Linked DNA regions of Homo sapiens. The gene in region 1 interacts genetically with each later gene. Each region holds a gene or a part of one and is shown on either strand. Other genes may lie near its edges. The genes, in order: ERBB3 and NPY4R.

Region 1 (3,809 bases):
GACTGCGGTGAGGGAAAGGGTCTGCTAGGTGGTGAGAATAGGGAGTCAGGGAGGAGAGGGCTGAAAGGACTATTCTGCCCTAGACGTGGGAGTAGGGTTGAGGGATGGAACCAAGGAGAAGGGGGCTGTTAGGCTGGAAGCAGTAACGAGGAAGAATAATGAAGAGAGGGCTTGCTGGGAGTCCTCAGACTCCTCTCCTAACCCACCCCTTCCTTTCCAGTGGCAGAGGGCAAAGTGTGTGACCCACTGTGCTCCTCTGGGGGATGCTGGGGCCCAGGCCCTGGTCAGTGCTTGTCCTGTCGAAATTATAGCCGAGGAGGTGTCTGTGTGACCCACTGCAACTTTCTGAATGGGTACAGTAAGGGGAGCCAGTCAAGGATGGGTGGGGGTGGGGCCCTGCAATGGAACTGTTCAGGTGGCATACAATAAAAGTCTTTAGACAGCTTTCTGCATGTGCCTTGGTGGGATTGAGGTAGGAGACCTGTGGTTGTGAGATCGGAGCATGAAGGTCAGGACTTGGAAGTGACCCCCCCCTCCCTTTATTCCCCACTACAGGGAGCCTCGAGAATTTGCCCATGAGGCCGAATGCTTCTCCTGCCACCCGGAATGCCAACCCATGGAGGGCACTGCCACATGCAATGGCTCGGTATACTAGTAGCACCAGGATCTCCAAGGGAGACAGAGAAGGGGCAATACTTGGAGCATCTGGGGAATGATATGGCTAAGGATAGCACAGAGAGGCCAGATAATGCTAGGGCCTGCAGATAGAAGATCCTGAATGTCTGGGTTGGTCTTTGCTGGGAGGTATGGAATTGACCTTGGGATCTGATTCTTCCTGACCTTCTCTCTTCCACTCAGGGCTCTGATACTTGTGCTCAATGTGCCCATTTTCGAGATGGGCCCCACTGTGTGAGCAGCTGCCCCCATGGAGTCCTAGGTGCCAAGGGCCCAATCTACAAGTACCCAGATGTTCAGAATGAATGTCGGCCCTGCCATGAGAACTGCACCCAGGGGTCAGTGATGGGATAATAAGGAGAGGGGGTCAGGTGGAAGGGTAGGAGCACAGAACTAGAGTGAGGGAAGCAGAAAGAAGAGAGAGGCTGTGATTCAAGAATCACTCCCAGCTGGCCGGGCGCAGTGGCTCACACCTGTAATCCCAGCACTGTGGGAGGCCGAGGTGGGTGGATCACCTGAGGTCGGGAGTTCGAGACCAGCCTGACCAATATGGAGAAACCCTGTCTCTACCAAAAATTTAAAATTAGCCCGGCGTGGTGGCGCATGCCTGTAATCCCAGCTACGCGGGAGGCTGAGGCAGGAGAATTTCTTGAACCCAGGAGGCAGAGGTTGCGGTGAGCTGAGATTGCATCATTGTACTCCAGCCTGGGCAACAAGAGTGAAACTCTGTCTCAAAAAAAAAAAAAGAATCACTCCCAGCTGTGTAGCGAAGGATTGGAGAAAGGGAAAATCAGTAACAGCACAAAATTACACCACAGTTTTGGGAACCTGGAATAACCTCAGTTCAAGGGAGTTTCACAGAAGAGGGGCTTGGGGAGAGCTAGTGAGCTGGAGGTGGAGGCCATGTCTTGGGATCAGCTCTGGGCTCCAGGATGGGATGCCACGGTAAGTTCTGAAACAAGCTTTTATATGTTAGGCTGTTGAAATTGAGCCTCTGCTGTCCAAGCTCTCATTTAAGGTGGTGACTTTCTTCCCTAGGTGTAAAGGACCAGAGCTTCAAGACTGTTTAGGACAAACACTGGTGCTGATCGGGTATGATGGGGTTGGAGATTCTGGAAACTGGGGATATTTGGGAGTTGGGAGAGAGGTGGTTACCTGGAGAGAAGAGGGAGGCTGTCTTCATTCTGGCCTTTTATGTATGCAGTCCACTATCACTGGACACTTGGGACTCAAGAATGCAGGCTTCTGGACTTCCCTTCCTAAAATTAACTTTCAGTAGTCTAAGACTGGTCCAGATTTAGGTTGGTCCCTTCAGTGCTTAAGGATATATATGTGAATGTTAATTTCTTGCCCCAGGTCAGCATCATACCTTCAACACAAGTATAGTTGACATTTGTAAGGAAGATGCAAACCCAGGATAATGTTGGGTTTCTATATATCCCATAGCAAAACCCATCTGACAATGGCTTTGACAGTGATAGCAGGATTGGTAGTGATTTTCATGATGCTGGGCGGCACTTTTCTCTACTGGCGTGGGCGCCGGATTCAGAATAAAAGGGCTATGAGGCGATACTTGGAACGGGGTGAGGTGAGTACTTAGCTTACTTTTGTTTTTTCTTTTCTTTTTTTGCATGTCCTGGAAGTCTCTTTATAGCTTAATTTTGAGTGGTACCCTGTGCACCCAGGGGTCAGTGATGGGATAAATGTCACTCCCCTCCTCTTTCCCCAGAGATTTGATCCCTTTCTTCAAGGAAGTAGTGTGGTCCCCTAGAAGAACACTGGTCAGAGAAATGGGAGGCATGCATTCTAGTCCTGATTTTGCCATTAATTTGCCACATGACTTTGAAGAAGTTACTTATCTTCTCTGTGCCTCGGTTTATGCATCTATACAGAGGAAATAACATTTGTCCTTCCAGGATGGCTGTAAGGGTAAAGGGGGATGATGTATGTGAAAGTGCTTTGGAAAGCACAGAGCACTGTATAAAAGGTACTCAAGGTGGTAATAGTACTACCAACTCTCCCTAGCTGTCCCCTTCCCCACTTTGTGCTCCTCCATCAAAGGGAAAACCCAACCCCTTTGATTCCTGATCTCATGAGCACAAATAACTTCCTCAGTTCTCAGGGTCTGTACCTCAATATGCCTATAATCCATTCCAGGACTAACGGTGCTTCCTCTTCCTGCCCTTTCAGCTGTGCTGCTTTTGGCATTCACCTATGAGGAGCGGGTTGGAGTGGGACATGGGAATGGCCTTTCCTGAGTAACTCCTTCCCATTTGCTCCTCAGAGCATAGAGCCTCTGGACCCCAGTGAGAAGGCTAACAAAGTCTTGGCCAGAATCTTCAAAGAGACAGAGCTAAGGAAGCTTAAAGTGCTTGGCTCGGGTGTCTTTGGAACTGTGCACAAAGTGAGTGACCCATAGGAATTCTGGAGAGGTGGGGAAGGCATCTAGGGCAAAGGGGTGAAAGATTTTTGCATAGGATTGACCTAGGGAGAATGACCTTATGCCAACTCCTGCCCCAAACTTCCCAGGGAGTGTGGATCCCTGAGGGTGAATCAATCAAGATTCCAGTCTGCATTAAAGTCATTGAGGACAAGAGTGGACGGCAGAGTTTTCAAGCTGTGACAGATGTAAGTGAAGGAAATTCTGTATGCCGCTAGGAGAGAGGACAATATTAGATACAATCATGTAGAAGCAGGGTCCTGTGCTTCTCAGCAGCTACTATGTTAGCCAGAATGTTGGGGGTGGGGGGGCCTGGGCTGGCTGTGCACATGCTGAGTGTATGTGAACCTGTTGGTTTCCTAGATAATACCTTTTGTGTCTCTTAGCATATGCTGGCCATTGGCAGCCTGGACCATGCCCACATTGTAAGGCTGCTGGGACTATGCCCAGGGTCATCTCTGCAGCTTGTCACTCAATATTTGCCTCTGGGTTCTCTGCTGGATCATGTGAGACAACACCGGGGGGCACTGGGGCCACAGCTGCTGCTCAACTGGGGAGTACAAATTGCCAAGGTGAGAGAAGCCTGGAGGAATTCTGTGATAAGAACTGCTTGTCTGGGGGCCAGCCAGGAAAAAGTGAGAAGGTTGAAGTTCTGAGAGGTGAGGTCCCCAACCCCCGGGCTGCAGACTGGTAC
Region 2 (4,296 bases), on another chromosome or scaffold:
TCGCATCCTGGATCTGGCTGTTTCTTAGCTGAGTGACTTTGGGCAAGTTGCTCAACCACTGAGTGTCACTTTGCTTCATCAGCACGATGGGAATAAAAATGCCCACCTCTCAGAGCTGTTGTGATGATTAACTAAGGTAGTGTCTGCAGAGTCTCTGCACTACAAACGGCAGCTGCCATTCTAGAGGGACCACTGCCATGACTTCATGGGGACATTTCCATGGGGAGCCACAGGAGGTTCACTGGACAGGTGTGTATGTCCAGTGTTTAGGAGGTGCTCTTGAAGCAGATCTGTTACTCTCAGGAGGTTCTCTAAGCGCATATGTGACTTTGCCATGTGGGGATGGGGGGCAGGGAATTATAAGCTAGTGTATTCAAAACAGGAGCAGCCCTTGTAAGCAAAGCTGTTCCATTATAGCCAAGTCATGTGCATCTCAGCTCCAAAGGAGAAAGTGACCATTCTCATTGAATTCTCATCGCCACAACCTTGGGACTGCCTGAGATAAGACACTCCACTTCCAGGGCCCACCCTGAGTTTTCACTCACACCCTGGATGCCCATCTCCTTCCCTCACCCTGGCTGACATTCTCAGCCACACTGCCCTCCCCTGGTCTCCAGGGGCTGAATGCTCCCAGCCTCAGGGCTTTTGCCGTGGCTGTGCCATCCATCTGGCCTATCGAACCCATTTGCTCACAGCATCTCACCCCCTGTAATAATTTATTTCCCTCTTTCCTTGTACCCTGTCTGTCTTCTCCCCCAGGGCTGAGAGCTCCAGAAGGAACCAAGGACAGGGAGCCTGTCTTGTCCAGCTCTGGTGCCCAGCAGGAGAGCCAGGCTCATAGGAGGTCTGCAAGTAATGTTTCTGGACGAACTTATGAAAGGCAGGTCTTTTTATACCCATTTCATGGATGAGGAAACTGAGGCAGAGAGAGAGAGAGACAGGCAGACGCACACACCCCTAGACAGAGAGAAACACTCCTGGAGAAAGAGAAAGGGAGGGAGAGAGGGAGGGGGAGGGAGGGAGAGAGAGAGAGAGAGAGAAAGAAAGAAAGAAAGAAAGGAAAGAAAGAAAGAAAGAAAGAAAGAAAGAAAGAAAGAAAGAAAGAAAGAAAGAAAGAAAGAAAGAAAGAAAGAAAGAAAGAGAGAAAGACAGCGCAGCTCCAGCCTGCCTGTATCCAGGGTTGAGGTGGGCGTGAGAGACACACGCAGGCAGGGCTGCAGTTCCGGGCAGGCCTTGGGGGCTCAAGATGCGGCTCCCCAGGGCGAGTGCTGGGGTCCCGGGGCAGGCGGGCGGCTGGAGCCCTCTCGTGGGCGGGCGCAAGGGGCAGGCTGGGCGGGCGCAGGCGGGAGCGTAGCAGCCGCTCCACTCCGCACGCAGGCAGCATCGGGGCAGCAGGAGCAGGTGAAGCAGGCGCGGCTCTGCCCCGCGCCTGGTGCCCCCTGGGCACAGGAGTGCGGCCGGGGGCGGGGCCGAGTGGGCCCCGGTACGAACCCTCCGGGAAGCCGGGCGCGCTGCCTGCCCTTGGCCCGGGGCGCAGAGCGTCACACTGGATCTGGGGAGCATCCTACCCCCACTGTGGACCTCAGTCTCCTCACCTGAGACATGGGCGGCCCCATCCGCACCCTGTAAGCCGCAAGCCAAGGAGGTAAGGGGTGCATCTGAGGTGTCTGGGCGCTATGGGCATTAGGATATAGTAGCTTTTGCTGAGATTTCAGGAGACAAAGCAAAGGGCCTTCCCTATTCTAACCCCACTGGGAGATTAGCATTGTGTGTATGATTCATTAATTTTCCTCTGATTGACTGGGAAGGCAGGCTGCAGGGGGTCCCTGTTGGGGCTTGCAGCTGGTTCTAGTTTTTGTATCTGGAGAGCTGCCTGGGGACAAAATGCAGAGACACCATTTTATTGACCTTGCGTAATAATCTACCCTCCCCCTCATACACTCGCCACCCCCTTGGGTGTGCCTGAGGGACTTGAGGTCCCCTGGTCCTCACTGGTCAGTGTACCCCAAGCCCAGCAGCCCCAGGCAGATGCCCAACACCACCTTTTCAGTGCTCCTCCTCCTCCTGTCTTGGCCCTCTCTGCCAATCCATTTTCTATATCCAAGTGATCTTACTGGAATGGACCTGACCTTGCTGGTCTGGCCCACCACTCCAGCTTCATCATCTGCCACCCTGGAACCTCTTATTCTGCTTACTTTTCCCAGCAGGCTCTGCTCCTTCCTGCCTCTGTGCCTTTGCACATGCTGTTCCTTGCACTTCGAGTTCCCTCCTCTCCCTGTCCCTTTGGCTGGTTGACTCCTCTTCAGCCTTTGAGCCCTGTACCATTGCCACCTCTTCTCTCACCTCCCTGCTCCCTGCTCCTTCTCTGATCTCTCAACTCACAGGCCTCTCTTTCATATTGGTGTTGGCAATGGCAATGAGTTCCATCTGCATTCGTGCTGGTCAGCCCCTCTGCTCTGGGAGGGCCATGACTGTATAAGTCATCTTTGCAGCCCTTGTTTCTAGCCCAGGGCTTGACACACACTTATTGAGTGGGTGAATGAAGCAGTGAGCATTTTCTGGAGCCCTCCCAGCCCAGTCCTTCCACTCTGATCCTGCTTTAGGTGGTTGGTTTGGGATGAATGGTGTTTCTCCACACCACTGGCCAAGCCTTGCTGATGGTCACCCAGAGCCTTGGGTTCTGGCCCATTTGCTGCTTCTGAGTGCAGTGCCTCTGCCACAGGTTCATGCAGCTGCGACTGTTCTTTATCTTATATTGGGCCCTGTGTTTGGCTCTGGAATAGTTTATTTTGCCATGTTCAGCCCCAAATGGCCCTTTTTGCCCGAAGACCATAGTGCTGGAGAAATCTTCCTGCCTTCGAGATCTGGTTCCTAAATAACCAGACTGTAAACTATCAGGTGAATTCACAGCTTGATCTTTTAAATGACCAAATGAGACTCTTTTTTTTTTTTTTGAGACAGAGTCTCGCTCTGTTGCCCAGGCTGGAGTGCAGTGGTGCACTCTCTGCTGACTGCAACCTCCGCCTCCCAGGTTCAAGTGATTCTCCTGCTTCACCCTCCCATGTAGCTGGGACTACAGGCATGCACCACCACACTTGGCTAATTTTTGTATTTTCAGCGGAGACGGGGTTTCACCATGTTGGCCAGGCAGGTGTTGAAGTCCTGACCTTAGAAACTCATCTTTATAAGTAGATCAGATGCACAGCAAGTGACATTCATGACAGCCGACAAATAGATTTTACTGAGCTCTGGTTGATTTTGGCCTTGTGCTCTGCAAAAACTGCCTTAACATAGCAATTGATCATGTAAAAAATACATATGGCCATGATATGAGACTTAAAGAATATCTCAAATAGGGTTTTCTGCTATAGTGTTTTACAAGATGGGGTCCAAGGGCCATGTGCATCAGAATCACATAGTCTACTTGTTAAATACAGATTCCTGGCCCCCATCCTGGATTCACTTAACTACATCTCCTGGTGGAAGGGCCCTGGGATCTGCACTTTCAACATGCTTCTAGAATGATTCTGATGTTTACTGAAGGTTGAGAACTGCAACCCTGTGGGATTAATAATGACTAGAGAATCTGAGAGGTGAGTCACAATGATGTATGTAGTGGTATGGTGCTTCCCATGCAAAACATCCATCATTGGCACTAACACGGGGGAACTCTGGAGTCTAAATTCCAACTCAGTCTTGGCAGGGGGTCCGTTGTGCTGAGGAGGTCCTCGGAGAAGGGACAGCCTGTACCAGGGCATAGAGATGTGGAAGAGTCTGGTGTGCTTGTGAGCTGCACACTGCATCAAGTGACTTGAACATAGTCATGGAGTAGGTTCTGTGGAGGGCACTGGGCACCTGTGACTTTGGCCAGGTATGTCTGTGCACATGGTGGGTAGTAGGAAGAAGCTGGTGTGCTGATGAGCCAGGCTTTGCATACTGGGCAGTCTTCAGTTTTGCCAGGTATCACCTAAAAAACAAGGCTACCAGGGCAGGGAGGGGCTGAGACCAGGAGGGTGCACTGATTGTGGATCCCCGAGGCTTTAGCTCTATCTTGAAGGGAATGGGGTGCCGTGGAAGGACACAAGCAATCCTGTGCAGAGTGGCATTTATTGCTGTCTCCATTAAGATAAAATGTGACAAGGGGCATTCTACCCATGTTCCCTGAACAATTCCGTCACTAAAGTCTGCATACAGCACTCCAACTTCTTTATCATCAGAACAGCCTCATCCTGAGGCCGGAGGGAATTAGTAGAACAAGTTCTGGCATTAGATGACCTGAGTTTGTAACTGGGCCCT

Evidence for each region.
Region 2: changes in ERBB3 (region 1) and NPY4R together harm fitness less than expected from each alone (positive genetic interaction), as found in Homo sapiens cells (one large-scale study listed by BioGRID).

What each region holds. Positions count from the first base shown.
Region 1 is NC_000012.12:56,093,544-56,097,352, forward strand, and holds part of ERBB3 (receptor tyrosine-protein kinase erbB-3 isoform 1 precursor), read left to right. Parts: coding exon 1-7; intron 8-220; coding exon 221-353; intron 354-555; coding exon 556-646; intron 647-858; coding exon 859-1,013; intron 1,014-1,713; coding exon 1,714-1,767; intron 1,768-2,121; coding exon 2,122-2,263; intron 2,264-2,959; coding exon 2,960-3,079; intron 3,080-3,204; coding exon 3,205-3,303; intron 3,304-3,501; coding exon 3,502-3,687; intron 3,688-3,809. UniProt on the Homo sapiens protein: Tyrosine-protein kinase that plays an essential role as cell surface receptor for neuregulins.
Region 2 is NC_000010.11:46,463,027-46,467,322, reverse strand, and holds the start of NPY4R (neuropeptide Y receptor type 4), read left to right. Parts: upstream 1-1,364; 5' UTR 1,365-1,645; intron 1,646-2,590; exon of another isoform or gene 2,591-3,437; 5' UTR 3,438-3,593; intron 3,594-4,296.